Regions from separate parts of the Homo sapiens genome. Here all the other regions are linked to region 1. The links come from fine-mapping of genetic effects on gene expression. A gene starts in region 1. Each other region holds a variant in brackets. All regions are shown on one strand. Distances are from middle to middle.

Region 1 (8,081 bases):
GACTTCATATAGGTTCACAGTACTCACAGGAAAAACATTTTGGGCACTGCTAAGTCTCTGTATGCAAAGTATGTTTTTTTCCTCAGATACTCTAATTACAAACTTGTAATTATCCTACCCTTAAGGTGTTCTTAAATATTTTTCAATTAATAGCAACAAAACCTACTAAACCAAAATCAAACAAGTTAAAAATAAACATTGGTCTTCACCTTTTTCGGACTGTGGTGAATTGTCCTTTCCATTGTTTTCCAGGAACACTATGAAAAGATTGCAAAACCAAATCATGAGAAGGTTAGATTCCTACTGAAATGAAAGATATTCATGGTATTTGGAAACTCTTATAAGCAAGAAGTCCGAAAAGTTCAAGATACTTCTGTAGAATGGTTTAATTTAAAAAGTGGCTGCTATCCTGGATGGGGTTAAGAAGCTGCTGGTACTCTGCTCTGGATCTCCTTCTTCCCTGTGGTTCTCCTCCCAACAAATAACTCTCATCTTCAAGTCTACCAAAAGCGGCTGACCTTAGTAGCATAACCTCTAAACCAAACTCAACTCTTACCTTCTCCATAAAGCTGCCAGAAATTGCTCCTGCCGAGAGTAATTTACCTCTTACACACCACTGTTATTTCACTGTGTGGTACTGTATTCCCAATTAAATTGAGAATGTCATAATAGATTTTATAAAACACTCGCAATGCCTAGCCTATTTGGAAGCATTCAAAAACTATGTATTGATGTATTTGTTCAATCAATGTATCCTTTCCTCCTTCCCCTTCCACATATTACCATCAGTTCTTATGATTCTACTGCCTTCTCTCCTTCCTCAGTTCTTAATTCTCATCATCTCTCACCTAAACCTAAAATTGTATTCACGCAGATCTCCCTGTTTTCAATCTTAATCCCTCTCCTATCTACTCTTCTCACTTGGCAACTGCCTTTGTAAAACTCCATTCCAGCATTATTTTTTTCTTTTGAGACAAGGTCTTGCTCTGTCGCCCAGGTTGGAGTGCATGGCGCCATCACAGCTCCCTGCAGCCTTGATTGACTCCCTAGATTCAAGTGATCCTCTTGCTTCAGCCTCCCAAGTAGCTAGGACTACCGGCACACACCGCCATGCCAAGCTAATTTTTGTATTATTTGTAGAGACAGGGTTTCACCATGCCCAGGCTGGTCTCCAACTCCTGGCCTCAAGCTATCCTCCCACCTCAGTCTCTAAAAGTGCTCAGATTACAGGCGTGAGCCACAGCACCCAGCCAAATCCAGCATTCTTGATAACAGAATAAAATCCAAACTCCTTGGTATTCAAAGATTTTCACAAATGGGCTCCTCCTCCCTTGATCTTCAGTAAGTTTAAGATAATTAAGCATAATTACTGCTTCAAAGCTCCGTAAACATGATATAGGGGAAAAAAAGGCAAGAGAAAAACAGAGGGAAGGAACAAATTTTTAGGAAGCAAATTAATGAAGAAATAATGACTAAGCATGGTGGCTCACACCTGATCGCTTGAGGCCAAGAGTTTGAGTCCAGCCTGGTCAACACAGCAAGACCCCACCTCTTAAAAAAAGAATATTAATTTTAAAAAATAAGTAAAAATTTTCAAAAATTTTAAAAAAGACTAAAGCAATAAACAGGTATGTACCCAGTAACATGAATAAAGCAAAAGCAAACCAAAGGAGAGAGCTTTAGAGAGACAGCAGCCAAATGATAGAAAGGTCCAAAACAAACTGGAAGGGTTAAGATTTTCCATTGTAATGCTTACGTATAAGGCTTGATCAATATCCCCCTGTCCACTCTAATCATCCAAGTTGATGAACTATAGATAGTAGACAGAATAGGCCGGACGCGGTGGTTCACGCCTGTAATCCCAGCACTTTGGGAGGCCGAGGCAGGCGGATCACCTGAGGTAGTTCGAGAGCAGCCTGACCAACATAGAGAAACCCCGTCTCTACTAAAAAGAAAATAGAAAATTAGCAGGGCATGGTGGCGCATGCCTGTAATCCCAGCTACTCGGGAGTGTGAGGCAGGAGAAAACCCGGGAGGCAAAGGTTACAATGAGCCGAGATCATGCCATTGCACTCTAGCCTGGCAACAAGAGCAAAACTCCGTCTCAAAAAAAAAAAAAAGGGAGAGAGTAGACAGAATAAATATAAGCATATTATCTCAGTCGCTAGATTTCAGAGGAACTTCTGAAAATACTAATATGGCCAGAGACAGTTCTAGTCAAATGCTATATTCTTTTCTTGCTATGAACAGTGGCCATAAGTAGTATTAAGTACTCACATCATACTAGATGCCTAAGAAAACAAAATTAATGATCCTTCCAAAAGGAAAAAAATGTAAAAATTAAAACTGCTATATAATTTCAGTTTTATGTGATGGGTAAAGATTAGCACAAATTATGTATGTTGTTACTTTTTTTAAAGAGAGAAAATTTTGTCGTAAAGAGAAAATAAATCTTACTAAGAGATGGAAAAAAGTATAATCAGAAGAGTGATTCTCAGCAACTAACAACAAAAAAGAATGGCTACTTTGAGGTTTAAAGTTATTAAATTAAAAATAATTAGCCAGGTATGGTGGCACATGCCTGTGGTTTTAGCTACTGAGGAGACTGAAGCGAGAGGATCACTTGAGGCCAGGAGTTTGAGGTTACAGTGAGCTATGAACACACCACTGCACTCCAGTCTGGGCAACAGAGCAAGACCCTGTCTCAAAAAAAAAAAAAATTAAAGAATAAAAACATACATATAAAAAAACCAAAATTACCTCTCAAACCATGTTTTTATACTGTGTGCAAATGACTCCCCTGGATACAGCTGATTATTTCTTAGATATGAAAGAATATCTAGTAGTTTATTTGAATAGTTATCATCCTTTATGTCTTTTCCAAAATCAAAGAAAGCTTTTAAAGTTTCCAACATAGGAACAATATCATGACCTAGCAATTCCTGATATAAATTCCAAGCTGTGTTTACATCTTGATGAAGGAGAGCTCCCTGGATACAGTCATTATAGTTCTTTTTTGAAGGAGTTATAACTTTTTTGATGTCCTCTAACAGCAACAATGCTTCTCTCCATCTGTCTGAATGGATCAATCCCCGGATGAGAAGACTGTAACCTCTAGGTTCTAAAGTCTTATATCTGGCTTTCATAATTTCAAAGACATCAATAACTTCAGATGTCTGCATATGAAAGACACAGAGATACAAATACTTGACCAGTAAATCGTAACTTACAATACCATTATTTTTGGCTGCTACCCATGCCAGCAGAGATTTAGCCACATCTATAGAGCTATGACAGCCAGCCATCTGTGAAATGATCCAACTTTCGAAACTGGTCTTTCCGGTGTTTTCTTTTAAATCTTCCTTAAGTTTATCCCACTCCTCTGAATTCAAAGGTTGTGTTGGGAGTTGAATAGTGTTCCTCACAGGTGCCAAGGCATGATCTTCAGTTTGAGAATTCATCTGTGATCTCTCCTTAGCTGCTCCAGCTAAAAAAAAATGAGGAACAGAATAAACTTGCTTATTACTGCCCTCATCTTTCCTGAGATATCTGGCCTTGGCAATCAGATTCGTTGCTTTGGTATTCTGTGGAGACATTGTTTTAAGAGAAAACAACCTCTGCTGGTTCCTGATGCCACAGCGGTCTGCCAGAAACAGCGAGACATAAGAGTGCCCTGGGCCTAGCCCAAGGTATGGGCTCTTCCAAAGCTTCGGAAAGCTTCGAATACCAAACAAATAGAAAGTCATTATGCAGTGAGATCAGCACCAGATAGTGAGAGAGATGTTGAAAAAACCCCTCTTCTATGGCAAAATTAAAGAGATTGGGGGTCGGCGGTGCAGAGTCGAAGTGGAACTTTTTAAAAGGTTTGTGTTTCTTCCTTACAGACAAATCAAGGTTCTGCTTTTGGGGCTACTTAAAAGCAAGAAGGCAGGTGAGTTTTCTCTATTAAACAACAATCCGGGGATGTCCAACGTCGCAAGCCGCAAACCAGGGGACAGAGCAGGAATCCTCTGGTGCCTCTTACATTCCAGTTCATGAACCTGAGGAAAAAGCACAAGACGGAACGCCCAGTTTTACTCACGTGGATCACAGCTGTCCTGAAAAGGAACAGATTCCCACGGGAAGCTTGCTGGAAAGGGGGTGTAAAGCCAAAACCGTATCCAGGGACCCCCAACTCCAGCCTACCACCAACAGCGGCGAAAGCCGAAGTCTAGGGGCCCTCACCCTGCATAGCTCTCTACAGACCGCAAAACTCCTCCGGTGGGGGGACGAGGAGGGAGGAGGTGGCGAGTCAGCTGCGCCAACGACTCAGGAAAGGAAGAGAGGTACAGGAAGGGCGCTGCCTAGACTGCGTACCGAACGCTGACAAATGAAGTTCACTTCATTCAACAACTCAAAGCGGCACTCAGACTTAACGCGGCCATAAACGCGGCGGAAACTACAGTGCCCACGATGCACCGCGCCAGCCCCGACCGACGGACGAGACTGACCCGGACTTAGGCGTTCCGCCTGGCCCGGCGGCGAGGAAAAAAGGCAGTTTTGAAGCATTTAGTGGCAAAAGGGGTAGGAGACGGCTGCTGAAGTGTCTACTACATTCAGGGGACCTGGAAGGCTTCCAGATATCCGCAATGAACAATGAAAAGAAATTGTGAAAGAAGGCGCTTCCCTCAAGCCGGAACTAATGAACTCCTGGGTCACGTGGTGCGCACGCGCCAAAGGCACACGATAAAGGAAAACGCGGGCTTATCGTGGCCTTTAAAATCCGGCTTGGTGAGCTTGGGTCGCCTCTGAAGGAGAACCATTTTCCATCTCTTTCATAGTTTTTTCCCCCAGTCAGCGTGGTAGCGGTATTCTCCGCGGCAGTGACAGTAATTGTTTTTGCCTCTTTAGCCAAGACTTCCGCCCTCGATCAAGATGGTGGTTGGACGGCCTTCCTAACCTTTACGGGGCCTGGCGGTGCTGACGCCTGAGCTGGTAGGGGTGGAGCAGGTAGGAAACAGCAAATGCAGAAGCTGCTGCGCGGAAGTCGGCCATGGACTGGAAAGAAGTTCTTCGTCGGCGCCTAGCGACGCCCAACACCTGTCCAAACAGTGAGTTTTGGGAGGGGCAGCCCGTTGGGATGGCCCGGCCCTAAACTCCTAGAGGTAGGGGGGAGGTGGGGAGGAGGAGCAAGGGGGAGCCGCCTTTTCCGCTTCTGTGAAACCTCCCGACAAAGGAGGCGGAGTGGAATGTGGTTTAAGGATCCCGATAGGTTTGACCCAAACTTTCCTGGGGCAGAATCTAGAGGAACGAAAAACTTAGCTTTAGTCACTGACTTCCATGGTCTTAATCTAAACTTGTGAAGAATAACTTGGAACCCCGGCTCCAACAACGCCTGAACCCCACCAGGACCTATAATTGTCCTCCTGCCTTTTTACTGTCACGCTTTTTGCTTCCCTCGTAATCCATTTTATATTTCATAATCCATTTTTCCTTTTATTTTTCTCCTTCACATTGCTTATTAACTAACCTCGTTAAATCTACCTTTCCTATTCCACACCCGCACTAAGGGCTGTTGAAAGTGGCTGGAGAAAAACAGAACCTTGGTGAGTTGTCTCACTTTTTTTTTTGAGACGGAGTCTCTTGCTCTGTCGCCCAGGCTGGCTGGAGTGCAGTGGCAGCATCTCCGCTCACTGCAACCTCTGCCTCCCGGGTTCAAGCGGTTCTTCTGCCTCAGCCTCTGGAGTAGCTGGAACTATAAGCGCGCGCAACCACGGCCGGTTAATTTTTGTATTTCTAGTAGAGACGGGGTTTCGCCATATTGGCCAGGCTGGTCTCAAACTCCTGACCTTGTGATTCGCCCACCTCGGCCTCCCAAAGTGCTGGAATTACAGACGTGAGTCACCGCGCCCCGCCGAGTTATCTCACTTTTAATACAAGTCCACTAATCTAAAGAAGGTGTTTTGGTCATGTCTACCGTGTTTTCCTGGACGTTCATTCTCCTACATTCAATTTTCATCTCCCAAACTGCCAATCTGTGTTTTCCTAAATACACTTTTTTTTTTCCGATACAGGATCTCCCTGTGTTGCCCAGGCTGGAGTGCAGCGGCGCAGTGAAGTATTGCTGCAACCTCGATTTCCTGGGCTCAAGGGATCTTCCCACCCCAGCCTCTTGAGCAGCTAGAAGTACAGGCACACGCCACCACACCCGGCTAATTTTTTATTTTTAGTGGAGATGAGGTCTTGCTATGTTGCCTGGGCTGGTCTCGAATTCCTGGCCTCAGGCAGTCTTCCTACCTCCACCTCCCAAAGTGTTGCTATTACAGACGTGAGCCGCCGCACCCAGGCAACACTCTTTTACACTATTCTTCTCATCTCCTACACCTGCAGTCTGTCCTACCCGCTTCTTACTTTAAGCTGATGAACTTGTATTTTAATATATATCTCATTAAGAAAGGAGAAGCAGTCGGCCGGGCGCGGTCGCTCAGTCCTGTAATCCCAGCACTTTGGGAGGCCGAGGCGGGCGGATCACGAGGTCAGCAGATCGAGACCATCCTGGCTAACACGGTGAAACCCCGTCTCTACTAAAAATACAAAAAAATTACCCGGTAGTGGTGGCGGGCGCCTATAGTCCCAGCTACTCCAGAGGTTGAGGCAGGAGAATACCTTCAACCCGAGAGGCGGAGCTTGCAGTGAGCCCGAGATTGTGCCACTGCACTCCGGCCTGGGCGACCGAGCGACACTCAGTCTCAAAAAAAAAGGAGAAGCAGTCAGAGGAGAACATCACCTGTCCCCCTTAACATTTCTTTCAGCCCCACAACCCCACAGTTAGTTGCCCATACACTCTGGCTTCACTGTTAAAATGATGAACTGATGCCGGGCGCGGTGGCTCAAGCCTGTAATCCCAGCACTTTGGGAGGCCGAGGCGGGCGGATCACGAGGTCAGGAGACTGAGACCGCAGTGAAACCCCGTCTCTACTAAAAATACAAAAAATTAGACGGGTGCGGTGGCGGGCGCCTGTAGTCCCAGCTACTCAGGAGGCTGAGGCAGGAGAATGGCGTGAACCCGGGAGGCGGAGGTTGTAGTGAGCCGGAGATTGTGCCACTGCACTCCAGCCTGGGCGACAGAGCGAGACTCCGTCTCAAAAAAAAAAAAAAAAAAAGATGAACTGTCCATGCTCCTATTTAAGAGTCCCTCCAGTCCACCACTAGATTGCATTCTTTTCCCTGTATTCACTGACTTCCTTCCAGCCTCCTCCTTTCTTTCCTACATCATCAGATTTTCCTTCTGCTGGATCATTTACACCAGCACAAACGTGCTGTTAATATCACCCATCTTTTTAAAAGGTGGGTGGTCGGGGGTAGTGGTGTTGGGAGGCTCGGTGGCTCATTCATGTAACCCCAGCACTTTGGGAGGCCGAGATGGGAAGATCGCTTGAGGCCAGGAGTTTGAGACCAGCCTGGGCAACATAGTGAAACACCGTTTCTACAAAAATAGAAAGTAAAAAATTAGCCCGGGTGGTTGTGCACCACTGTAGTCCTAGCTACTCGAGAGGCTGAAGCAGGGAGGGTTGTTTCAGTCTAGGAGTTTGGGGCTGCAGTGAGCTATGATCATGACACTATACTGCAGCCTGGGTGACAAGAGCCAGACCCTGTCTTAAAAAAAATTCATTTGGGCTGGGCACTGTGGCTTACACCTGTAATCCCAACACTTCGGGAGGCCGAGGTAGGCAGATCACTTGAGGTCAGGAGTTCAAGACCAGCCTGGCCAACATGGTGAAAGTCCGTCTCTACTAAAAATACAAAAAGTAGCTGGGCGCAGTGGTGCACACCTGTAATCCCAGCTACTTGGGAGGCTGAAGCGGGAGAATCGCTTGAACCCAGGAGGCAGAAGTTGCGGTGAGCTGAGATTACGACACTGCTCTCCAGCCTGGGCGATAGAACGAGACTACATCTCAAAAAAAAAAAAAAAAGTCATTTGATCCCACATCCCTCTCCAGCTTCTGTTGCATTTCTCTGCACTCTTCATAGGAAAACTTCTCAAAGAAGTTACCTGTACTTGGCTGGGCGCAGTGGCTCATGCCTGTAATCCCAGCACTTTG
Region 2 (8,081 bases), 240 kb before region 1:
ACCTCTCTGGGGTGAGGGGAGAAACAAAAGAAAAAGAAATGAGAATAAACGCACTTCGCATCCCAACATCATAAAATATTACAAAGAGTTTTGCTTTTGCAAAATCAAATAAACTACCCACAACTGTACCTACCAAGTAAAAGTGCACCTTTGTTTGTAAGCAGAGGAATGAGGAAAACAGACTGGGGACACTTGGACTCATTTCCAGAGCATAGCTTTAGGGACCAGCCTCAGGGTGGTTGTAAAGATCACATTCAGAACAATGAGCTCTTCCTAGATGTCAAGTCACTATGCGGGACTGCACCTCCAACCCCAAGGCTACCCACTAACCCCAAACCTTGCCCTCTAAAGCTCAGCTGGGAGTGCAATGGGTTAAAATAAGTCAACCCAATGGAGTGCAGGGGCCCGGGGAGCTCCTCAGCCATGTGGAGTCCTGGTTTGCCCCCATGCCAGGCTGCTACAGGCAGGGCCCATTCATCCAAATGAACCCCTGAGCTGCTGGGGCAAGAGGGTGAAAGGAGAAGATGTCCCTCCCAGTTGGTTCCCAGGTTTGAGGGAGAAGCACAGATCCTGCCTCCATCCAGCCCAGAAGAGAAGAAGGGTCCTCCTGGGGAAGAGGTGGCCTGACCCCCATGCAGGGCTGGGAGGAGGCGGGTGAGGGGGCTGTTGTGAAGCTGCAAGTTCCCTTTGCATACCGAAAGCTTCTAGTTGCAGCCGGATGTAGGGGAAAGTGCCGGGGGAGATAAGGGGCCCCATGAGCAGAGCACCCCACCATGGGAAGATAAAAATAGAAATACAGTTCTCCCCACCCCCACCCCAGCCAAAGAAAGTGTGAAAAGCCACTCTGGAATGCCACAGAAGCAGCCATGCAAATTAAACTCATTAAATGAAATAGTACAAGTACAGGGCCTAGCACTAGCTTGCCACATGGTAGGTGCACAGTGAATGTTGCTCCCCTTACACACACACACACACACACACACACACACACACACACACACAGCTGTGTCTGGCCCTACCACAAGCTGAAATGCACATTTACTTGATATATTCATCCGGCTCCTCTTTGAGAGGCATGACCTCGGCTGCCCAAACTTGCAGGCCTCCCCGTAACTGGCCACAGCAATCCCAGCACAGAGCCCCTGGTGTGGAAGGGGCATGACAGGGCAGCCTCAGCCTCAGGTGTCAGCCCTGGTGGGCTGGGTTCCAGGCAAACATTCTGAGGCAAAGTCTCCACGAGGGTGAAGGTTCTCCCAGAGCTGGCCCTTCTGACTCCAGGCACAGGGCCTGGGGCGCCTCGTCACTTCTCCCTCCTTTCTGCCAACCAACCTCCCCCGGCTCCACATTTGCAGACAGGTAGCCAGGCCCCTCCACCTCAGGCTCCCTGCAGGGTGGCCCTGGGATGTCAGGTCTGGGGTGGGCAAGGGGAGGCTGGAAGACAGTCTCCCAGTGACTCAAGCTAGGCTGACCCCTCACTACAGAGGAGTCAACCCCTCCATTTGGATGTGGAGCTTCGGTCTCCTCCACCACACACTTGCACGAAGGGTTGGGAGACTGGGTATGGGGAAGGAAAGGGATAACGCTGAGGGCTGAGCCCTGGGGGGTAGTGCCAACCTGGATTTTGCAACAGAGCAGGCTGAGAGCGAGGACCATGTACAGAGAACCCACTGTGTGCCGGCTCTATGCCAGGCCTTTGCATAGTTTCATTTCATCTTCACCACAAGTTGGTCAGGTAGGTGTTCAAGACCCATTTTATAGATGAAGAGACTGAAGCCCCGTGTTCAAGACCCATTTTACAGATGAAGAGACTGATGCCCACAGAGTTGAATTTAGTTGCCAGAGTCACACAGCTATCTGAGAGGGGTGGCCTCTGGCTCCATTGGAGGTGCTGTGTTTTCTGACTGAGGGTTGGGGCTGGTGTGGATCTGGGTAAAAGGCTGCGGATGGACTTCTGGCTGCAGCCCAAGGAACCATGTGGGGCAAGGCTGGCTCGGTGAGCATGCAGCGCTGTCACAGAGGGGTCGGGACTGTGGGCACCCTGCTGGCCAGTGGAGGGCTGTGGAAGAGGTTTGCACAGGCCTCGCTGTCCCCGAGGTCACCAGGCCTTCTCCCCTGGAGTAAGTGGGGGTCCCCAAGCCTTAGACTCCAGCGTGGGTGATGACTTCTTTCTGCCTTCCCAGTTGATGCCCTTGGAAAAGCCCCTGACTCCATCATGGGCCACAGAGTGCTGTGTAATTTCCTCTGTGGGTCAGCCCTCCACTGAAGGCTGTGACGGGGACATGACTCAGGCCTTGGCCTGCCACCGACAAGCCACCAGCTGCATGGATCCCAGCTGACTCGGTGGACACAGAAGCGGCGCCTGCTGGTTTCTGCCATTTATGCTTCATCCTACACTAGGAGAGGTGCGCCCGCCGAGGGGATGGGCCAGGCAGATTGTGGGTCACACTGGACCCACAGCATGTCAGGAACTGGGACCAGTTCTCGGTCATCGCTGGGGAGAACCGTGACTGAGACAGACCCTCCGCCAGGTCTGGAGCAAGTCAGCCAGGATCCTCCAGGCTCAAGAATCTCAGTGGCACCAGCAAGCTATTGGAGCTGGGCCTGCTCTCCCCATCTACTCCCAAGTAAGAACATTTTCCATCTTCCCACAGGAAGTGACCCACAAGTGAATTTGCTCTTTTTGGAGAAAGGTGCTTTGCTTAGATAATTAAAAAAAAAAAGAAACCAAACCCATTCAGTGGTTACTTCAAGCTGCCTTCCAGGAATTCACCATGGATATACAGGGCCTTGAAAGGCCTCAGCTGACAGCAGGTCTTTGGAAAACAAGAAAGGTCATCTTTGGATCCCTTGTTCTGAGCTGACAGTGGCCTCCCCCTCAGGGTGGGGAAGCACAGGCCAGGGCACCAGTCATACTTCTGGGCAATTCGAAGTCATGTGTTCTGTGTCACCAAGGCCGTGACTCACCCCTGTGCTTGCCGAAGCTCATTCACAAAGGGGTGAAACTGCTCTACAAGCACTTTTCTGAGTGAGGCTGCCCACCTCCCAGAGGGGAAAACGGGCCCCACGGGAGGTGGGCCTGGCCCTCCCGGGTTCAAGCCGTCCAGGCAGGGGCCCCTCAGGGCCAGGACCAGGAGAGTTCAGTTCTGTGTCCCCACCCCTTAGGACTTCAATAAATTCTGTTAGATGAATGAACCAACAGCAGAAGAAATGAAGTGAAGCTGGCACAAAACCCTAAAGCTCCTCCTTTCGATGTAGACGTTCCCTGTGTTCTTGCTCCTCGGGGAAGAGGAGAGATGCTTGTGTGACCCATGGGAGGGAGGCTGGACCTCCTCAGAGTGAGCCAACAGCGGCTGAGGGCACAGAAGTCACATGCCCAGGGCCGGCTCTCCCTCCACATCCCTCTAAGAAGGTGGGAGCTGTCCTGGAATCCTTTGAGGGGGTAGGGCCACTCAGTGTCCGGGCTATTTCTGGAATTACAAACAGCTCATGTTGGTTGAGATCCTCAAAGGAGTTTCATTTATTTATTTATTTTTTTATTTATTGAGACAGAGTCTCACTATGTTGCCCAGGATGGTCTCGAACTCTTGGCTTCAAGTGATCCTCCCACCTCAGCCTCCCAAAGTGCTGGGATTACAGGCATGAGCCACTATGCCTGGCTCAAAATAGTTTTTTATTTCTTTTTAATCTTTATTCATTTATTTTTTGAGACAGAGTCTTGCTCTGTCATCCAGGCTGGAGTGCAGTGGTGCGATCTTGGCTCATTGCAACCTCTGCCTCCAGAGTTCAAACGACTCTTGTGCCTCAGCCTTCTGAGTAGCTAGGACTATGGTGGTGCGCCATCATACCTGGCTTTTTTTTTTTTTTTTTTT[C/TC]TGGAGACAGAATCTGTAGCTGGGATTTTAGGCATCTGTCTCCACACCCAGCTAATTTTTGTATTTTTAGTAGAGACAGGGTTTCACCATGTTGGCCAGGATGGTCTCAAACTCCTGGCCTCAAGTGATCTGCCCACCTCGGCCTCCCAAAGTGCTAGGATAACAGGTGTGAGCCACCACACCCAGCCAAAAGAGTTTTTTTTTTTTTAAATTATTGTTATTATTATTGTGCTCCTTAAAACAACAAAGGCCAGGTGACAGATGCTAAGAGCCCAGTCTAGACTGGTGCAGTCAGGCCGGGAGGAGTGAGCAGCCACTTGTGGGCCTCGGTCAGGCTGTCCTGACAGAGAGGACAGAGTAGGTGGCTATCCATGCTGCAGGTTCCGCCACCCTACAGCATCTCCTCCCTGCCTGGGAATCCCATGTTTAGTTGCTCCTGTAGGTTGGACAGCCATGATTGGGGCAGCTGCCACCCAGAGATTGTGGGGACAGTTCTGGGCTTGCCTAAGGGCTCTGGAGTCTGGAATCTGGACCACATAGTACAGCAAGAGAAACAGCACACAGCTCATCCTTGAGCGTATCTAATATATCAAAATGATTCCAGAATTAATGAGACCTCCTGGGTACCTAGTACCTAAAGGCTTAACTGGGATAGCACTCCACCCCACCCCCCATCCCACCTGCCCCACCTCTCGCAAGACATATTCAGTCCTCCATAGAGACACCTCCCTTAATGCTAAGGAGTTCACTCAGCTCAGACTTCTGGAGTGGGGAAACGGAGGCTTTCTCCATCCAGACTCATCATCCTGGAATTCTTTATTTCTCTCTCCTGATTGCGGTTTTTTTTTCTATATTCCCTATTTTTTCACTTTTTCTTTTTCACAGTCTTTTTTTTCTTGAAATATTTCTCCTTTTCTTTCTTTGTCTTCTCCTTAGTAAATCAAATTGCCTAATTGTCAACCTGGCAGGTGGGGACTGGAACCCAGGGAGGATGTGGCACCGGACAGAGGCTTCCAATGGAGGCAACAGCTTGGTCCACCCACATGGCGGCAGATCCACGCATCTCCCTGGACCTTCCGTGTCTGAGCGTCCATCTGGGAGCCTCCACCAAGGGGCATGAGAGAACAGAAGCGGAGGAAGACCCTGAGAGTTGGCTTCCTAAGAGAGAAAAGGGTAACGAGAATGACATAAGAGTTTTGTTAGGCTGATCACACTAATGGCCAAAACACTGAAGCTGAGTGGGTCAGCGATGCAGCAGGCATTAGTGCCAGCTGGAGAATACAAGTTTGCCCTGCACTTAGGGCCGCACCATCCATGTGGCAGGATTTCTCACTCCTGGGGCCTTCCACAGACGTGCATTTTACCATATTCTCTAACCATAAACAAACGAAAACTCTCGTGGCATACAGCTTTCAAAGACCATTGTCTCGAAAAGGAAATTGGGACTGCATTTTCCCACAAGTTCAAGGAGTTTTGATTACTCAGAACGCCCTCTCGACATTCTTGTGAACATTTGAGAAATTCCCACTGCCTCCTGTTGCCCTCAGTGCAGGAAGCCAGGGATATGCACACTCAGACAAGCGCTTCTGGGCTCACAGCAACTGCACAAACCATTGCATAACTGCAAGCAGGGTGCGTGTGTGTGTGTGCAAGTGTGTGTGTGCGTGCGTGCACGTGTGTGCATGCATGTCTGCGTTGTGTCCATATGCGTGTGCGTGTGTGTGCATGTGTCCGTGTGCGTGCATGTGTACATGCGTGCGTGCCTGTGCGTGTGTGCGCGTGTGTGTGCGCGCGCGCGTGTGTGTGTGTTACTTTGCTTGATAATGAAAGGAAATGCAAATAAAGAAATACTGGCTTCTGGTAAATTTATGCCTAAAAGATTACTTCATTCCAAATCTTTCTGGACTACACACCTCCTCAAAATTCCTCCCCAATTTTTTTTCCAGGAGCTTATTTCCCAGAGTGGTGTTCCAGGATTGCTGCAGGACATGTGACAATGGAATTACTTCTATGAGAGCCCGATTTTGGGGCTCAAAGTTGTCCTCAAGCCCAGAGATGGATGCAGGGACTCTCCAAGGTAGAAGGGCCTTCTGGCTACCAGCCACCCATGCAAAGTGAAACTCCAGGCACGAAAAAGACATGGGGAGTCTTGGCAAATACTGAAGCCACTGCTGGAAAAGAAGGAAGGCCCCATGTGAGCCTGCCCTCACCATTCCATGGAGACAGATGAGCCCGTGGGAAGCTGAATGTGCTAGGGGAGATCTTTGTGCCCTGCTAACCAGTGGCCTGCCAGAAGCCCAAAAAGTGCCAGGAGGGAGCAGCGACAGGAAAGCAGAGAATTCTGGAAAATAAGGTTTCCCAGCATCATCTGCCTGGGTGAATGTCGTTGGCAGGTAGACATCTGTCTCAATTTCTAAAGAATGATCTGATTTTCTAAAAAAGGAGAAAGAAGGGAAGGAGGGAAGAAGGAAGGAAGGGAAAAAAAGGGAAAAGTAAAGAAAAAATAAAAGAACTCCGGGCGCAGTGGCTCACGCCTGTAATCCTAGAACTTTGGGAGGCTGAGGTGGGCAGATCACCTGAGGTCAGGAATTTGAGACCAGCCTGACCAACATGGTGAAACCCCATCTCTACTAAAAATACAAAAAAAATTAGCTGGCTGTGGTGGCGCGTGCCTGTAATCCCAGCTACTCGGGAGGCTGAGGCAGGAGACTCGCTTGAACCCGGGAGGCGGAGGTTGCGGTGAGCCGAGATTGCACCATTGCACTCCAGCCTGGGTGACAAGAGCAAAACTGCATCTCAAAAGAAAAAAAAAAGAAAGAAAAAATAAAAGAAAAGGAGATATAAAAGTTCTAGATCTGTGCTGTTCACTGCCCACATAATGCTAGTGAGCACCGAAATGTGGATGGTCTGAAACGGGATTCACTGTAAATGTAAAATAGACACTGGGTTTCAAAGGCTCAGTGAGGAAAAGGGACTGTAAAATAAGTAACAGTCATTGTCATCAATTACATGTTGAAATAATCTTTTAATTATTTTTTATTAAACAAAATAGATTAGAATTCATTTCACCTGTTTTTATTTTTCATTTTTTGAGAGGGAGTCTCACTCTCACCCAGGCTGGAGTGCAGTAGCATGATCTGGGCTCACTGCAACCTCTGCCTCCTGGGTTCAGGTGATTCTACTGCCTCAGCCTCCCCAGTAGCTGAGATTACAGGCGCCTGCCACCACACCTGGCTAATTTTTGTATTTTACTAGAGACTGGGTTTTACCATGTTGGTCAGGCTGGTCTCGAACTCCTGACCTCAGGTGATCCACCCATCTCAGACTCCCAAAGTGCTGGGATTATAGGCGTGAGCCACTGTGCCTGGCCCGTTTCACCTATTTTTAAAATGTGGCCACTAGAACGCTGCCAGCTCCATCTGCACCTGCCCTCTATTTACAAGGCAGGGCCGTCTCAGGTGGTAACTTTGGGATGACAGCCCTGGTCCCAGCCCCGCTTCAACTTCCCACCAAATCATGAAGGTCTCTTGCTCAGCCCCTTTCCCGGAACGGGGCTGGAAGTAAACTAGCCCAGGTGTGTGGGTATCTAGACTTTTGGGTTCTCCAGATAAAATCCAAGCATCTCCCTGAAAAACCCTTTTGTTTTTTTTTTTAAAATAGAGATGAGGTCTCCCTATGTTGCCCAGGCTGGTCTTAAATTCCTGGCCTCAAGTGATTCACCTGGCTCAGCCTCGCAAAGTGCTGGGATTACAGGTGTGAGCCATCATGCCTGGCCCTGTTTTGCTGTTTAAGCAGCTATTTTCTGAGTGCTGCTTGACCTTTTAAAATCCTGCACTTCATATAAAGGTACAAAGGGGCTTTCTTGCACTCACTTGAGGTAGTCATATGGGTGGCTATGTGATAGAAAGGGAAACTTTGAATAGGATGTATGAGTTGTGGGAGGGTTTTCGTTAGGCATCAATGGAGACTGAGTCCTGGATAGACACTGTTCAAGTTTGAATCCAGGTTCACTGGTCCTTAGGAGACTTTTTAAAGTGGTGCTACAGAACATCACAGCAACAGTCACAGAACAGTTTTTCTTTTTCTTTTTCTTTTTCTTTTTTTTTTTTTTTTTTTGAGACAGGGTCTCGCTCAGTTGTCCAGGCTGGAATGCAGTGAGGTGATCTCAGCTCACTGCAACTTCTGCCCCCAAGGCTCATGCGTTCCTCACAT
Region 3 (8,081 bases), 31 kb after region 1:
CCTCCATTTAATTTAGAAACCTAGGAATGTTTAAAAAGACTGCAAACTGAAAACAAATAATGATGTAAGTGAAACAGCCCAGAGACTATGGCCTTCATGATGGGTTTTTTTGGCTGTTTCTAGCCCAAGGGTTTTTCTGATCAAGATTGCAAAGGTAGCTGATAGTATTACACATAGGCCACTACCCTAATCATAACATGAATAGTTTGAAAATCAAAATATTAACCAAGAAAAAACTTTTTGTTAGTCTATTCTTCTGATTAAAATTTTATTGTGGTCATAAGTGTCTTTATTATTTTTCTTCCCAAGGCCAGTACTTGAATCTTGATAAAGATCACAATGGCATGCTCAGTAAAGAAGAACTCTCACGCTATGGAACAGCTACCATGACCAATGTCTTCTTAGACCGTGTTTTCCAGGAGTGTCTCACTTATGATGGAGAAATGGTAGTAGTTTAAATCTGCTGCTAAGTTTTAAAAGTTTAGGCTCCCAGAGTTTCCACAAACCCTTTTCTTGATGTAATACAGCCCTTTTTTTTTTGAGACAGAGTCTTGCTCTGTCGCCTAGGCTAGAGTGCAGTGGTGTGATCTCCGCTCAATGCAACCTCCACTTCCTAGGTTCAAGTGATTCTCCTGCCTCAGCCTCCGGAGTAGCTGGGATTATGGGTGCATGCCACTGCATCCAGCTAATTTTTGTACTTTTAGGAGAGATGGGGTTTCACCAGGTTGGCCAGGCTGGTCTTGAACTCCTGACCTCAGGTGATCTGCCTCCCAAAGTGCTGGGATTACGAGGCGTGAGCCACCACACTCGGCCCAGCATTATTGATATCACTGTGTAACAGTGTCTTTAAAATGTGTAAACTGATCAAATTACTTGAGATTCAGAGTCTTTGGTCTTAACGTAAATTAAAACATCTGCATTATGGCCTCAGGGCAAATAGAAAAGCTTATTGTTCATTTCATTGTCAGTGCACCTACTGTACAGTAGTGCATTCTAGTTTTTTTTTTTTTTTAAAAAAAAGCTGAGGCCAGGCTTGGTAGCTTATGGTTATAATCCCAGCGCTTTGGGAGGCCAAGGCCACAGAACCACTTAAGGCCAGTCGTTCAAAACTAGCCTGAGCAATACAGCGAGACTGTCTCTACAAAAAATAAAAAAATTACTTGGGCATGGATGGAATGTGCCTGTAGTATAGCTACTCGGGAGGCTGAGGCAGGAGGATTGCTTGACCTGAGGAATTTGAGGCTGCAGTGAGCTATGATGAGGCCACTGCACTCCAGTCTGGGCAGTAGAGTGAGACCATGTCTCTTAAAAGCTGAAACATTAGTAAATTATTCTGGCTATTTTCAGCTAGATAGTTCCGTCATTAAATTACCAGGTCAAATGTAGTAACACATATGCCATGATTTAATTCTGAGAATCAGGTTGTATTAGTCTCTAGAAGTGGCTATATGAACAGCTGAAGATAACATGCACTTGTCTTTTTATTATAACAATGCAAAATACTTGAGAAGGAAAATTCTAAACAGCATTTTAAAATCACCATTTTTGCTGCTAAAAACATGGGTTAAGAATCTGATAACTTTGGGAGGCCGAGGCGGGTGGATCACAAGGTCAGGAGATGGAGACCATCCTGGCTAACACGGTGAAACCCCGTCTCTACTAAAAATACAAAAAATTAGCTGGGTGCGGTGACGGGCACCTGTAGTCCCAGCTACTCCAGAGGCTGAGGCAGAATGGTGTAATGGTGTGAACCCGGGAGGCGGAGCTTGCAGTAAGCCGAGATGGCGCCACTGCACTCCAGCCTGGGCAACTGAGCGAGACTCCATCTCAAAAAAAAAAAGAATCTGATAAATTTCCCAAACCAGTTATGCTTAAAAAATAGTCATATTGTCATGAGAATGGGGGGGTCTTACATTTATCATTTAGCTTCAATAGCAGTTTGCTAAATAACACCATTAGTAACAACAAAAGAAAAGAGGGGAAAAGGCACAGAAAATTTACTTTGTAACTCCCACAGCTGTAAACAATAGACAGTGAGGAGCTTATATTATTAATATAATGATTCCTGATGAATAGAGAAAATCAGGCTACAACTATGGATGAAGTCAGATCACAATCTGCATTCTTTAACTCTTTAGTGCTATTTATGCAGAAAGGAACTTTTCTAAGAATATAAAATTTTTATCTAAGTGAGAACCTCCCAATTACTACTTTTTACCATTAAAAAAAAAATCTGAGTATCCTGTTTTTTTGTTTTGTTTTGTTGTTTTTGTTTTTGTTTTAGATGGAGTCTCCCTCTGTCGCCCAGGCTGGAGTGCAGTGGCGCGATCTCGGCTCACTGCAAGCTCCGCCTCCCGGGTTGACGCCATTCTCCTGCCTCAGCCTCCCGAGTAGCTGGGACTACAGGCGCCCGCCACCATGCCCGGCTAATTTTTTTTTGTATTTTTAGTAGAGACGGAGTTTCACCGTGTTAGCCAGTATGGTCTCGATCTCTTGACCTTCTGATCTGCCCGCCTCGGCCCCCCGAAGTGCGTATCCTGTTTTTATAGGGAAGGCTTTCTGTTCTCTTCATGTCTTTCTGGCCTTTCCATTTTGCCTTTTTATGGATGAGAGCAGTGTCAGCTCACTGTAAAATGTCTGGCAATCTCAAGACAGCTTCTTATTGGAAATCTGAATTAAAAATTTTAAACAATATTTTAAAATAGCAATTTAAATATACTGTTCTGAGACTGGGCACGGTGGCTCACACCTGTAATCCTAGCATTTTGGGAGGCCGAGGTGGGTGGATCACCTGAGGTTGGGAGTTTTGAGACCAGCCTGACCAACTTGGAGAAACCGCTTCTCTACTAAAAATACAAAATTAGCCAGGCGTGGTGGTGCATGCCTGTAATCCCAGATACTCAGGAGGCTGAGGCAGGAGAATGACTTGAACCTGGGAGGCAGAGGTTGTGGTGAGCCAGGATCGCGCCATTGCACTCCAGCCTGGGCAACAAGAGCGAAACTCCATCTCAAAAAAAAAATTATACTGTTCTGTTCATTCCAGATAAAAAATTTGTTTTTCAAAATAACTGCACTGAAATGAAGTTATAAGTTTATAGCTTAGTCATCTGTTTCAAAAGTTTGAAGCAGGATGCAGTAGTTCATCCCTCTAGTCCCAGCACTTTGGGAGGCCGAGGCCAGATGATTGCTTGAGCCCAGGAGTTTGAGACTAGCATGGGTAATACAGGAAAACCCCATCTCTACAAAGAATTTAAAAAAT[T/C]AGCCAAGTGTGATGGCGTGTACCTGTAGTCTCAGCTGCCTCGGAGGCTGTAGTGGGAAGATTGCTTGAGCCTGGGAGATCAAGGTTGCAGTGAACTATGATCGTACCACTGCACTCCAGCCTGGTTGATAAAGTGAGACCCTGTCTCAAAAACAAGAATAATGAAAGAAAATTATAGTTTAACACAGCAAATCTCTCATAAAAAAATGAACTAGGGCTGGGCACAGTGGTGCATGCCTATAATCCCAGCACTTTGGGAGGCCGGGGCAGGCGGGTCACTTGAGGTCAGGAGTTTGAGACCAGCTTGGGTAACATGGAAAATCCTGTCTCTACTAAAAATATAAAAATTAGCTGGGCATAGTGGTGTGCACCTGTATTCCCAGCTACTTGGGAGGCTGAGACAGGAGAATCGCTTGAACCTGGGAGGCAGAGGTTTCAGTGAGCTGAGATTGCACCACTGCACTCCAGCCTGGGCAATAGAGCAAGACTCCGTCTCAAAAAAATAAATAAATAAAAAAGAACTATGTCCTCAAAACTGTCCTGTGTAGATTATATATAGAATTCCTATGGCTGGGCAGGGTGGCTCACACCTATAATCCCAGCACTTTGGGAGGCTGAGGCGGGCGGATCACCTGAGGTCGGGAGTTCGAGACCAGCTTGACCAACATGGAGAAACCCCATCTCTACTAAAAATACAGAATTAGCCAGGCATGGTGGCACATGCCTGTAATCCCAGCTACTCCGGAGGCTGAGGCAGGAGAATTGCTTGAACCCGGGAGGTGGAGGTTGTGGTGAGCCAAGATTGTGCCATTGCAACTCCAGCCTGGGCAATGAGAGTGAAACTCTGTCTCGAAAAAAATTCCCTAGAAACCAATATTAAGTATATAAATGGATTTCTCATATCATAACTTAGGGAAAAAATTAAATTTGCCACCTTTGATTGCAAAATAGCTTCAAATCATAAGATATTCACTTGAAAGTTAATTTCAACTAAGGCCTCTAATGAACATTATTTTCTGTTCTGTAGGACTATAAGACCTACTTGGACTTTGTCCTTGCATTAGAAAACAGAAAGGAACCTGCAGCTCTACAATATATTTTCAAACTGCTTGATATTGAGAACAAAGGATACCTGAATGTCTTTTCACTTAATTATTTCTTTAGGGTAAGTCTCATTTGCATAAGTGAGTCATTGTTCCTTAAGATATATCATTTTGTTGCTGCCGGTGCAGTGGCTCACGCCTGTAATCCCAGCACTTTGGGAGGCCGAGGCAGGTGGATCACAAGGTCAGGAGATAGAGACCATCCTGGCTAACATGGTGAAACCCCGTCTCTACTAAAAATACAAAAAATTAGCCAGGTGTGGTGGTGGGTGCCTGTAGTACCAGCTATTTGGGAGGCTGAGGCAGGAGAATGGCGTGAACCCGGGAGGCAGAGTTTGCAGTGAGCCGAGATCGTGCCACTGCACTCCAGCCTGGGCGACAGAGCGAGACTCCGTCTCAAAAAAAAAAAAAAAAAAAAAATTGTGAGATGCAGCAAAAGCAGTGGCTAGAGGGAAATTTATAGTATTGAATGCATATACTGGAAAATGTTAAAGATCTAAAATCAGCATCTACTTTAGGAAATTAGAAAAAGAAGAGCAAATTAAAGATATATCATTTGGTTTAAATTAAATATTTAGTAACCATTTTACCTAACTCGTGATTTTTATTTATTTTTTTCTTTTTTTGAGAAAGGGTCTGGCTCTGTCGCCCAGGCTGCAGTGGCATGATCATAGCTCGCCGCAACCTCCAACTCCTGGGCTCAGGCAGTCTTCCCACTCAGCCTCCCCAATAACTGGGTCCACATGCCTGTAATCCCAGCTACTTGGGAGGCTGAGGCAGGAGAATCACTTGAACCCAGGAGGCGGAGGTTGCAGTGAGCTGAAATCGCGTCACTGCATTCTAGCTTGGGCAGCAAAGCAACACTCGGTCTCAAAAAAAAAAAAAAAAAAAAAACTACAACTACCAAAGTCTATAAAAATTTCTGTGGAAAGGAGCTACCTTTTCTGAACTGCTTAGCATCTTACAAGTTTTTCATCACAAGTATAGAATTTATCACATATTTGTATTTCCAATGGTAGTACAGCCCCTGACGTATATTTACATATTTTTATTTTACATCTAGTCAAATCAGCTTTCACTCAATTTTTTTAAGTAGGAAAGAAAACTAAAAACTTGATTTCTTTCTGAAATCTGTTATGTAAATGCTTTTATTAAATTTAAAAATCGGCCGGGTTGCGGTGGCTCATGCCTGTAATCCCAGCACTTTGGGAGGCCAGGGTGGGCGGATCGCAAGGTCAGGAGATCAAAACCATCCTCACTAACATGGTGAAACCCATCTCTACTAAAAATGCAAAAAAATCAGCCGGGCGTGGTGGCGGGCGCCTATAGTCCCAGCTACTCGGGAGGCTGAGGCAGGAGAATGGCATGAACCCAGGAGGCAGAGCTTGCAGTGAGCCGAGATTGCGCCACTGCACTGCAGCCTGGGTAACAGAGCGAGACTGAGTCTCAAAAAGAAAAAAAAAAATTAAAAAATCATACCCCAGGCATGGTGGCTCACACCTGTAATCCTAGCACTTAGGGAAGCTGAGGCAGGAGGTTCACTTGAGCACAGGAGTTTGAGACCAGCCTGGGCAACACAGGGAAACCCCAACTTCTACAAAAAATTTAAAAAATTAGCTGGGTGTAGTGGTCACATGCCTGTGGTCCCGGTTACTGGGGAGGCTGTGCCCAGCCAGTTGTAGATACTTTTATTTGCTATGTTGAAATAAACCATGAAAATAATTTTTAGGCCAGGCGTGGTCGCTCATGCTTCTAATCCCAGCACGTTGGGAGGCCAGGGAAGGAGGGTTGCTTGAGCCCAGGAGTTGGGAAACCAGCCTGGGCAACATAGGGAGACTCCATCTCTACAAAAAAATTAAAAATTAGCTGGGTGTGGTGGCACATGCCTGCAGTCCCAGCTACTTGAGAGGCTAAGGTGGGAAGATCACTAGAGTCCGGGAGGTCAAGGCTGCAGTGATCCATGATTTGCCACTGCACTACGGCCTGAATGACAGAGTAAGACCCTATCTCTAAAAATAAAAATTAAAAAAACTGAATGCTATATGGGCTTATATCAGCGGCTCATCTGAGAAAATAAATACCAACCCATCATAGGAATGCCCCTACTTTAGACAAACCTATTAGGTAAAAATCCAGTCTTAAGAAAATAAATGTATTTGAAATTAAACACTGCTCTTTTTCATAAAGATTTCTTTACAGTATTTTCTACTCTTAGAATATTAAATTGTTTTAAAACTACTTTAAAAATATTTCATATAGGCATTTTGTCAAAGCTTATTTAGGCTTGGTTATATGGGATAAGGTAAAAAGTGTCCAATGCTGAGCCCTATAATCCTGGGCTGTTCACAGAGCGTTTGGACATCACTATCCTAATGATAAAGCTGGGTCTGGATGATTCACTCTAGATCATACCATCTATTACTATATTAACAGAGCATGTACTCAGATTCTTATCTACTTCAAAGGGATTCCTTTATGGATACTCTGATTATTAGTGGTAACAGAGTAGGCATCGGGAACAAAGTTGACTGTTCACCAAGAATTTGAAACTTCACATTTCCAGTGAATAATGCTCACCTGAAGTATTTTGTATTCCTACTGGATGACAGCAGTTTCTTCATTTTTTTGTTAAAGTTTATGAAAAGGAAGAGTTTTGGGAGGTCTACCTCCATTTCTTGTATTACGTAGAAAGCAAAGTGTAGGGTAGGAAGGGAGACAGTAGATTGGGGATCTTAAGAGAATAGTGAAGGCAGGAATAACATTCATGGAAAATGAGAGGAGCAGATCAAACAGAATAATTGTGAGGCCATGCTGAGGGCCTGTTTGAGGTTGGAGAACATTCCTATGTAGAAGCAGCAATCCGTAATCTTTTTATTTTTTTTCCTGAAGTTCTCAATAGTTAAGATATAGGTCTAAAAAGGTCAATACACTAATCGAGAATTTAGGTTTTGCTCACTGATGTGGAATAAGGTCAAGAAAGCTAAGAAGATTGGCAAGAGAGAGAATGATGAGGTTTGTGGCCTGATAGGAAAGGAAGTATAAGTAGAAAGGGGTTGTAGGGCAAAAGAGGGATGTTGTGTATTTCATTTTTTATTTACAGATTTATTTCTATTAAATACAGGCCATACAGGAACTAATGAAAATCCATGGACAAGATCCTGTTTCATTTCAAGATGTCAAGGTTATCTTTTCCTTTAATTTACGTATTACCAGATAATTATGAGATAGTCATTTGTATTACATGAAATTTTATATGAAAGCAACTAATGAAGTACTATTTGAATCAAGTGTTTGCTTTTTGTTCTGAACTGATATTTAAATCATTACGAACTGAGACCACATTTGGACTATTTATGTAGTTTATAATTTTAGTATTGTCATCATTATGTTTTCATTGGAAGCATTCATTCATTTTAATTAAGACAGTCAGGGGGCCGGGCTCAGTGGCTCATGCTTGTAATCCCAGCACGTTGGGAGGCTGAGGCGGGCGGATCATCCGAGGTCAGGAGTTCAAGACCAGCCTGGTCAACATGGTGAAACCCCGTCTCTACTAAAAATACAAAAATTAGCTGGGCATGGTGGCGCATGCATGTAATCCCGGCTACTCGGGAGGCTGAGGCAGGAGAATCGTTGGAGCCCAGGAGGTGGAGGTTGCAGTGAGCTGAGATTGTGCCACTGCACTCCAGCCTGGACAACAAGAGTGAAACTCCATCTCAAAA
Region 4 (8,081 bases), 53 kb before region 1:
ATCTGCAGCTGGCCTATCTAGACTTCTAAATTAACCCACATGATAGTTATGATAAGAATGAACTGGCGGTTCCAAGATGGCCGAATAGGAACAGCTCCAGTCCACGGCTCCCAGCGTGAGCGATGCGGAAGATGGGTGATTTCTGCACTTTCAACTGAGCTTTGAAGAGAGCAGTGGTTCTCCCAGCACGGAGTTTGAGATCTGAGAATGGACAGACTGCCTCCTCAAGTGGGTCCCTGACCCCCGAGTAGCCCAAGTAGGGGCAGACTGACACCTCACACGGCCGGGTACCCCTGAGACGAAGCTTCTAGAGGAACGATCAGGCAGCAATATTTGCTGTTCAGCAATATTCGCTGTTCTGCAGCCTCCGCTGCTGATACCCAGGCAAACAGGGTCTGGAGTGGACCTCCAGCAAACTCCAGCAGACCTGCAGCTGAGGGTCCTGACTGTCAGAAGGAAAATTAACAAACAGAAAGGACTTCCACACCAAAACCCCATCTGTCTGTCAACATCATCAAAGACCAAAGGTAGATAAAACCATAAAGATGGGGAAAAAACAGAGCAGAGAAGCTGAAAATTCTAAAAATCAGAGCACCTCTCCCCCTCCAAAGGAACGCAGCTCCTCGCCAGCAACAGAACAAAGCTTTGCGATGACTTTGATGAGTTGAGAGAAGAAGGCTTCAGACGATCAAACTTCTCTAAGCTGAAGAAGGAAGTTCGAACCCATTGCAAAGAAGCTAAAAACCTTTAAAAAAGATTAGATGAATGGCTAACTAGAATAACCAGTGTAGAGAAGTCCTTAAATGACCTGATGGAGCTGACAACCATGGCACGAGAACTACGTGACGAATGCACAAGCTTCAGTAACCGACTCGATCAACTGGAAGAAAGGGTATCAGTGATGGAAGATGAAATGAATGAAATGAAGCAAGATGAGAAGTTTAGAGAAAAAAGAGGAAAAAGAAATGAACAAAGCCTCCAAGAAATATGGGACTATATGAAAAGACCAAATCTATGTCTGATTGGTGTACCTGAAAGTGACAGGGAGAATGGAACCAAGTTGGAAAACACTGCAGGATATTATCCAGGAGAACTTCCCCAACCTAGCAGGCAGGCCACCATTCAAATTCAGGAAATACAGAGAATGCCACAAAGATACTCCTCAAGAAGAGCAACTCCAAGATACATAATTGTCAGATTCACTAAAGTTGAAATGAAGGAAAAAATGTTAAGGGCAGCTAGAGAGAAAGGTCAGGTTCCCCAGAAAGGGAAGCCCATCAGACTAACAGCGGATCTCTAGGCAGAAACTCTACAAGCCAGAAGAGAGTGGGGGCCAATATTCAACATTCTTAAAGAAAAGAATTCTCAACCCAGAATTTCCTATCCAGCCAAACTAAGCTTCATAAGTGGAGGAGAAATAAAATGCTTTACAGACAAGCAAATCCTGAGAGATTTTGTCACCACCAGGCCTGACCTAAAAGAGCTTCTGAAGGAAGCACTAAACGTGGAAAGATACAACCGGTACCAGCCACTGCAAAAACATGCCAAAACGTAAAGACCATCGATGCTAGGAAGAAACTGCATCAACTAATGAGCAAAATAACCAGCTAACATCACAATGACATGATCAAATTCACACATAATATTAACCTTAAATGTAAATGGGCTAAATGCTCCAATTAAAAGACACAGTCTGGCAAACTGGATAAAGAGTCAAGATCCATCAGTGTTGCTGTATTCAGGAGACCCATCTCACATGCAGAGACACACATAGGCTCAAAATAAAAGGATGGAGGAAGATCTACCAAGCAAATGGAAAACAAAAAAAGGCAGAGGTTGCAATCCTAGTCTCTGATAAAACAGACATTAAACCAACAAAGATCAAAAGAGACAAAGAAGGCCATTACATAATGGTAAAGGGATCAATTCAACAAGAAGAGCTAACTATCCTAAATATATATGCACCCAATACAGGAGCACCCAGATTCATAAAGCAAGTCCTCAGAGACTTACAAAGAGACTTAGACACCCACACAATAATAATGGGAGACTTTAACACTCCACTGTCAACATTACACAGATCAACGAGACAGAAGTTAACAAGGATATCCAGGAATTGAACTCAGCTCGGCATCAAGCGGACCTAATAGACATCTACAGAACTCTCCACCCCAAATCAACAGAATTTACATTCTTCTCAGCACCACATCGCATTTATTCCAAAATTGACCACATAGTTGGAAGTAAAGCACTCCTCAGCAAATGTAAAAGAACAGAAATTATAACAAACTGTCTCTCAGACCACAGTGCAATCAAACTAGAACTCAGGATTAAGAAACTCACTCAACCGCTCAACTACATGGAAATTGAACAACCTGCTCCTGAATGAATACTGGGTACATAATGAAATGAAGGCAGAAATAAAGATGTTCTTTGAAACCAATGAGAACAAAGACAAAACATACCAGAATCTCTGGGACACATTTAAAGCAGTGTGTGGAGGGAAATTTATAGCACTAAATGCCCACAAGAGAAAGCAGGAAAGATCTAAAATCGACACCCTAACATCACAATTAAAAGAACTAGAGAAGCAAGAGCAAACACATTCAAAAGCTAGCAGAAGGCAAGAAATAACTAAGATCAGAGCAGAACTGAAAGAGACAGAGACACAAAAAACCCTTCAAAAAAATCAATGAATCTAGGAGCTGGTTTTTTGAAAAGATCAACAAAATTGATAGACTGCTAGAAAGACTAATAAAGAAGAAAAGAGAGAAGACTCAAATAGACACAATAAAAAATGATAAAGGGGATATCACCACCGATCCCACAGAAATACAAACTACCATCAGAGAATACTATAAACACCTCTACGCAAATAAACTAGAAAATCTAGAAGAAATGGATAAATTCCTGGACACATACACCCTCCCAAGACTAAACCAGGAAGAAGTTGAATCTCTGAATAGACCAATAACAGGATCTGAAATTGAGGCAATAATTAATAGCCTACAAACCAAAAAAAGTCCAGGACCAGACGGATTCACAGCCAAATTCTACCAGAGGTACAAGGAGGAGCTGGTACCATTCCTTCTGAAACTATTCCAATCAATAGAAAAAGAGGGAATCCTCCCTAACTCATTTTATGAGGCCAACATCATCCTGATACCAAAGTCTGGCAGAGACACAACAAAAAAAGAGAAATTTTAGACCAATATCCCAGATGAACATCGATGGAAAAATCCTCAATAAAATACTGGCAAACTGAATCCAGCAGCACATCAAAAAGCTTATCCACCACGATCAAGTGGGCTTCATCCCTGGGATGCAAGGCTGGTTCAACATA[C/T]GCAAATCAATAAATGTAATCCAGCATATAAACAGAACCAAAGACAAAAACCACACTATTATCTCAATAGATGCAGAAAAGGCCTTTGACAAAATTCAACAGCCCTTCACGCTAAAAACTCTCAATAAATTAGGTATTGATGGGACGTATCTCAAAATAATAAGAGCTATTTATGACAAACCCACAGCCAATGTCATACTGAATGGGCAAAAACTGGAAGCATTCCCTTTGAAAACCGGCACAAGACAGGGATGCCCTCTCTCACCACTTCTATTCAACATAGTGTTGGAAGTTCTGGCCAGGACAATCAGGCAGGAGAAAGAAATAAAGGGTATTCAATTAGGAAAAGAAGAAGTCAAATTGTCCCTGTTTGCAGATGACATGATCGTATATTTAGAAAACCCCATTGTCTCAGCCCAAAATCTCCTTAAGCTGATAAGCAGCTTCAGCAAAGTCTCAGGATACAAAATCAATGTACAAAAATCACAAGCATTCTTACACACCAATAACAGACAAACAGAGAGCCAAATCATGAGTGAACTCCCATTCAAAATTGCTACTAAGAGAATAAAATACCTAGGAATCCAACTTACAAGGGATGTGAAGGACCTCTTCCAGGAGAACTACAAACCACTGCTCAACGAAATAAAAAAGGACACAAACAAATGGAAGAACATTCCATGCTCATGGATAGGAAGAATCAGTATTGTGAAAATGGCCATACTGCCCAAGGTAATTTATAGATTCAATGCCATCCCCATCAAGCTACCAATGACTTTCTTCACAGAATTGGAAAAAACTACTTTAAAGTTCATATGGAACCAAAAAAGAGCCTGCATTGCCAAGACAATCCTAAGCCAAAAGAACAAAGCTGGAGGCATCAAGCTACATGACTGCAAACTATACTACAAGGTTATAGTAACCAAAACAGCATGGTACTGGTACCAAAACAGAGATATAGACCAATGGAACAGAACAGAGCCCTCAGAAATAATGCCGCTTATCTACAACTATCTGATCTTTGACAAACCTGACAAAAACAAGCAATGGGGAAAGGATTCCCTATTTAATAAATGGTGCTGGGAAAACTGGCTAGCCATATGTAGAAAGCTGAAACTGGATCCCTTCCTTACACCTTATACAAAAATTAATTCAAGTTGGATTAAAGACTTAAATGTTAGACCTAAAACCATAAAAACTCTAGAAGAAAACCTAGGCAATACCATTCAGGACATAGGCATGGGCAAGGACTTCATGTCTAAAACACTAAAAGCAATGGCAACAAAAGCCAAAATTGACAAATGGGATCTAATTAAACTCAAGAGCTTCTGCACAGCAAAAGAACCTACCATCAGAGTGAACAGGCAACCTACAGAATGGGAGAAAATTTTTGCTATCTACTCATCTGACAAAGGGCTAATATCCAGAATCTACAAAGAACTCTAACAAATTTACAAGAAAAAAAACAACCCCATCAAAAAGTGGGCAAAGGACATGAACAGACACTTCTCAAAAGAAGACATTTATTCAGCCAACAGACACATGAAAAAATGCTCATCATCACTGGCCATCAGAGAAATGCAAATCAAAACCACAATGAGATACCATCTCACACCAGTTAGAATGGCGATCATTAAAAAGTCAGGAAACAACAGGTGCTGGAGAGGATGTGGAGAAGTAAGAACACTTTTACACTGTTGGTGGGACTGTAAACTAGTTCAACCATTGTGGAAGACAGTGTGGCGATTCCTCAGGGATCTAGAACTAGAAATACCATTTGACCCAGCCATCCCATTACTGGTTATATACCCAAAGGATTATAAATCATGCTGCTATAAAGACACATGCACATGTATGTTTATTGCGGCACTGTTCACAATAGCAAAGACTTGGAACCAACCCAAATGTCCATCAATGATAGACTGGGTTAAGAAAATGTGGCACATATACACCATGGAATCCTATGCAGCCATAAAAAAGGATGAGTTCATGTCCTTTGTAAGGACATGGATGAAGCTGGAAACCATCATTCTGAGCAAACTATTGCAAGGACAGAAAACCAAACACCGCGTGTTCTTATTCATAAGTGCGAATTGAACAATGAGAACACTTGGACATAGGAAGGGGAACATCACACATCAGGGCTTGTCGTGGGGTGGGGGGAGGGGGGAGGGATAGCACTAGGAGATATACGTAACGTAAATGACGAGTTAACGGGTGCAGCACACCAACATGGCACATGTATACAAACCTGCACATTGTGCACATGTACCCTAGAACTTAAAGTATAATAAAAAAAAAAAAAAGAAAAAAAAAAGAAGAATGAACTGTCAAAATCTCTAAGTCCTGTTCTGTAGGCCAAGGAGGAGTGAACCTTAGGTATGCCACTCTACCAGTACAACCGTGCTGAAAGAACAAGGCTGTAAAACGTATAGGTCCTCTTTTGTCATTAAGAGGCTTTTATTTACCTATGGCTGTTTTGGAGAGGTAAAGATTCAGCCAATCATTAATTCAACAAATATTTGCTGAGCACCTACTACATGCCTAGCAGTTTACCAAAGGGACAAACAAAACAAAACAGAACAAAAAAACCCCAACTTAATGGAGCTTAGTGGGAGGATGCAGAAAATAAACGAAGTCAATAAGTAAATAATATTAAATGTGAGAATGCTATGGAGAAAAAAATAGGGGAGGGAGTTCTACCTCTGGTAATGATGGAATAGTTTGTACTGGACTACTAGATAATAATATAAATTCTAGATAAATACCCAACTATTTCAAAGTACCAAAGAATGAGCAAAAGCAGGCAGAAACTGGAGGGGACATGACATTTGAAGGTTTGGTAGTTTTAAAATCTGTCTGAAAATTAGTTGACACTCCCCTCTCAAAAGGTGATGTCTAATACCCTATGCTTTGAATATGGGCTCTCCTTTGTGACTGCCTCAATGAGTGGGATGTGGCAGAAGTGACATTATGTGATTTCTGAGGCTAGGAAATAAAAGATAATACAGCTTTCATCTGGCTGTCACTCTCAGGATGCTTGCTCTTGGAAACCAGCCATCCTGAGAATGCCCAAGTAGACGTTATATGTAAGTGTTCCATCTGACAGTCCAACGGAGTCCCAGCCAACAGCCAGCTAGCATCAATCACCACACCGATGAGACTGAGGGGGATTTCAAGATGACCCCCAGCCCCTATTTGATTACAATAGGAGACCCAAGCAAGAAGCATCAATTGAGTCTCATCAACCCCTAGAACCACGAGAGAGAACAACAATAATAATAGTAATAAATGATTGCGTTTTTTTAAAGCCACTATATTTGGGAAAATAAAGGAAAGAAAAGAAGGGAATTATACCAGGTAAAATTTGTCTTGGTCAGAGGGCAATCTCCAGACAGTATGGCCAGCAGGAACAGCTGGAAATCAAGCAGAAAGCTGCAGAACTTACTGGTTTGAGGAAACAGAAGACAGAGTTTGGGGCAACCAGAGGCTGGAAAATGACAGGGAATCCTAGAAAGGATAAAACCACAAAATTTGCACATAAATCTCCTCAAATCCTTGGGTAAAACATGATCTGCACATGCTTGGAGAAGATTCCAAGAAGCCCAGCAAAAAAGCAACAGGTGAAAGACTTGAAAGACCTAAGCAGAGATCTCAGCTGCTACCCACTGCAAGGGAGACAGTTTGGAGTCTAAGTCTAAAGAAGTTTAACAGCCTGCTAAATTAGCAAAAAATCAATAATTTCTAGACAAACATAGATAATCTCTAAAGCCTCTGCAATGTGTCATTCACAATGTCTGATACACAATTGAAAATTAATAAACATGAAAAGAAATACAGAAATGTGATCCACAGTCAAGAAAAAAGGGATTCAAAATAAACTAATCTGGGCTGGGCACAGTGGCTCAAGCCTGTAATCCCAGCAATTTGGGAGGCTCAGGTGGGTGGATCACTTGATGTCAGGAGTTCAAGACCAGCCCGGCCAACATGGTGAAACCTCATCTCTACTAAAAATATAAAAATTATCCAGGCATGGTGGTGCATGCCTATAATCCCAGCTACTCAGGAGGCTAAGGCAAGAGAATTGCTTGATCTTGGGAAGTGAAGGTTGCAGTGAGCCAAGATCACGCCACTGCACTCCAGCCTGGGCAACAGAGAGAAACTCTATCTCCAAAAAAAAAAAATGAAACTGGCTGGGCGCAGTGGCTCACACCTGTAATCCCAGCACTTTGGGACGCCAAGGCAGGTGGATCACGAGGTCAAGAGATCAAGACCATCCTGGCCAACATGGTGACAGCTTGTCTCTACTAAAAATAAAAAAATTAGCTTAAAAATAAAAATTAGCTGGGCATGGTAGTGCATACCTGTAGTCTCAGCTACTCAGGAGGCTGAGGCAGAAGAATCGCTTGAACCCGGGAGGCGAAGGTTGCAGTGAGCTGAGATCATGCAACTGCACTCCAGCCTGGTGACAGAACGAGACTCTCAGAAAAGAAAGAAAGAAAGAAAGAGGAGAGGAGAGGACAGGAGAGAGAGGGAGAGAGGGAGAGAGGGAGAGAGGGAGAGAGGAAGGGAAAGAAAGGAAAGAGGGGAAAGAAAGAAAGAAGGAAGGAAGGAAGGAAGGAAGGAAGGAAGGAAGGAAGGAAAGAAAGAAACCAATCCAAAGTGTAGATGCCTGAGTTAGCAGACAAGAGCTATAAAGTAACTATTGCAAATATAATCAAGAATTCTGCCTGTAATC

Direction of the effects. Positions count from the first base shown, and alleles are read on the strand shown. Sizes are in standard deviations (SD) of each study's normalised expression. Not every link is listed here.
As copies of C replace TC in region 2, the expression in monocytes of the gene that starts at base 4,440 in region 1 goes up (large effect, 0.88 SD a copy in Schmiedel 2018).

What was found. PIP is the estimated chance that this variant, and not a neighbour inherited with it, causes the effect. A credible set is the group of variants that fine-mapping cannot tell apart.
Region 2: its variant is the best candidate, but not a certain one, in a credible set for the expression of PRORP in monocytes (Schmiedel 2018, PIP 0.63).
Region 3: its variant is the best candidate, but not a certain one, in a credible set for the expression of PRORP in whole blood (INTERVAL, PIP 0.56).
Region 4: its variant is the best candidate, but not a certain one, in a credible set for the expression of PRORP in monocytes (TOPMed, PIP 0.55).

The regions. Positions count from the first base shown.
Region 1 is chr14:35,118,911-35,126,991 of GRCh38, reverse strand. It overlaps PRORP (protein only RNase P catalytic subunit), which reads right to left and starts at 4,440. Exons shown (of 8, transcript NM_014672.4): 1 at 4,357-4,440; 2 at 2,761-4,040; 3 at 210-257. The coding sequence starts at 3,746. It overlaps PPP2R3C (protein phosphatase 2 regulatory subunit B''gamma), which reads left to right and starts at 5,002. Exons shown (of 13, transcript NM_017917.4): 1 at 5,002-5,090. The coding sequence starts at 5,033. It overlaps PRORP-PSMA6 (PRORP-PSMA6 readthrough), which reads right to left and starts at 5,153. Exons shown (of 15, transcript NR_182666.1): 1 at 4,940-5,153; 2 at 2,761-4,040; 3 at 210-257. RefSeq lists enhancers at 3,947-4,456, 3,540-4,459, 4,467-4,546, 5,087-5,216, 4,460-5,379 and 1 more.
Region 2 is chr14:35,360,529-35,368,609 of GRCh38, reverse strand. No RefSeq gene overlaps it. Among named protein-coding and RNA genes, the nearest start is that of NFKBIA, 40 kb to the left of the region's middle. RefSeq lists enhancers at 1-105, 106-693, 694-1,283, 7,623-7,732 and a silencer at 938-987. The variant C/TC (reference allele first, on the strand shown) is at 3,870.
Region 3 is chr14:35,087,413-35,095,493 of GRCh38, reverse strand. PPP2R3C (protein phosphatase 2 regulatory subunit B''gamma) reads left to right here. Exons shown (of 13, transcript NM_017917.4): 10 at 310-446; 11 at 4,287-4,424; 12 at 7,484-7,543. All of the region lies in intron 1 of LOC101927178 (a long non-coding RNA gene), which reads right to left. Among named protein-coding and RNA genes, the nearest start is that of PRORP-PSMA6, 30 kb to the left of the region's middle. The variant T/C (reference allele first, on the strand shown) is at 3,260.
Region 4 is chr14:35,172,319-35,180,399 of GRCh38, reverse strand. The region is part of intron 4 of PRORP (protein only RNase P catalytic subunit); the gene reads right to left. All of the region lies in intron 4 of PRORP-PSMA6 (PRORP-PSMA6 readthrough), which reads right to left. Among named protein-coding and RNA genes, the nearest start is that of PRORP, 54 kb to the right of the region's middle. The variant C/T (reference allele first, on the strand shown) is at 3,344.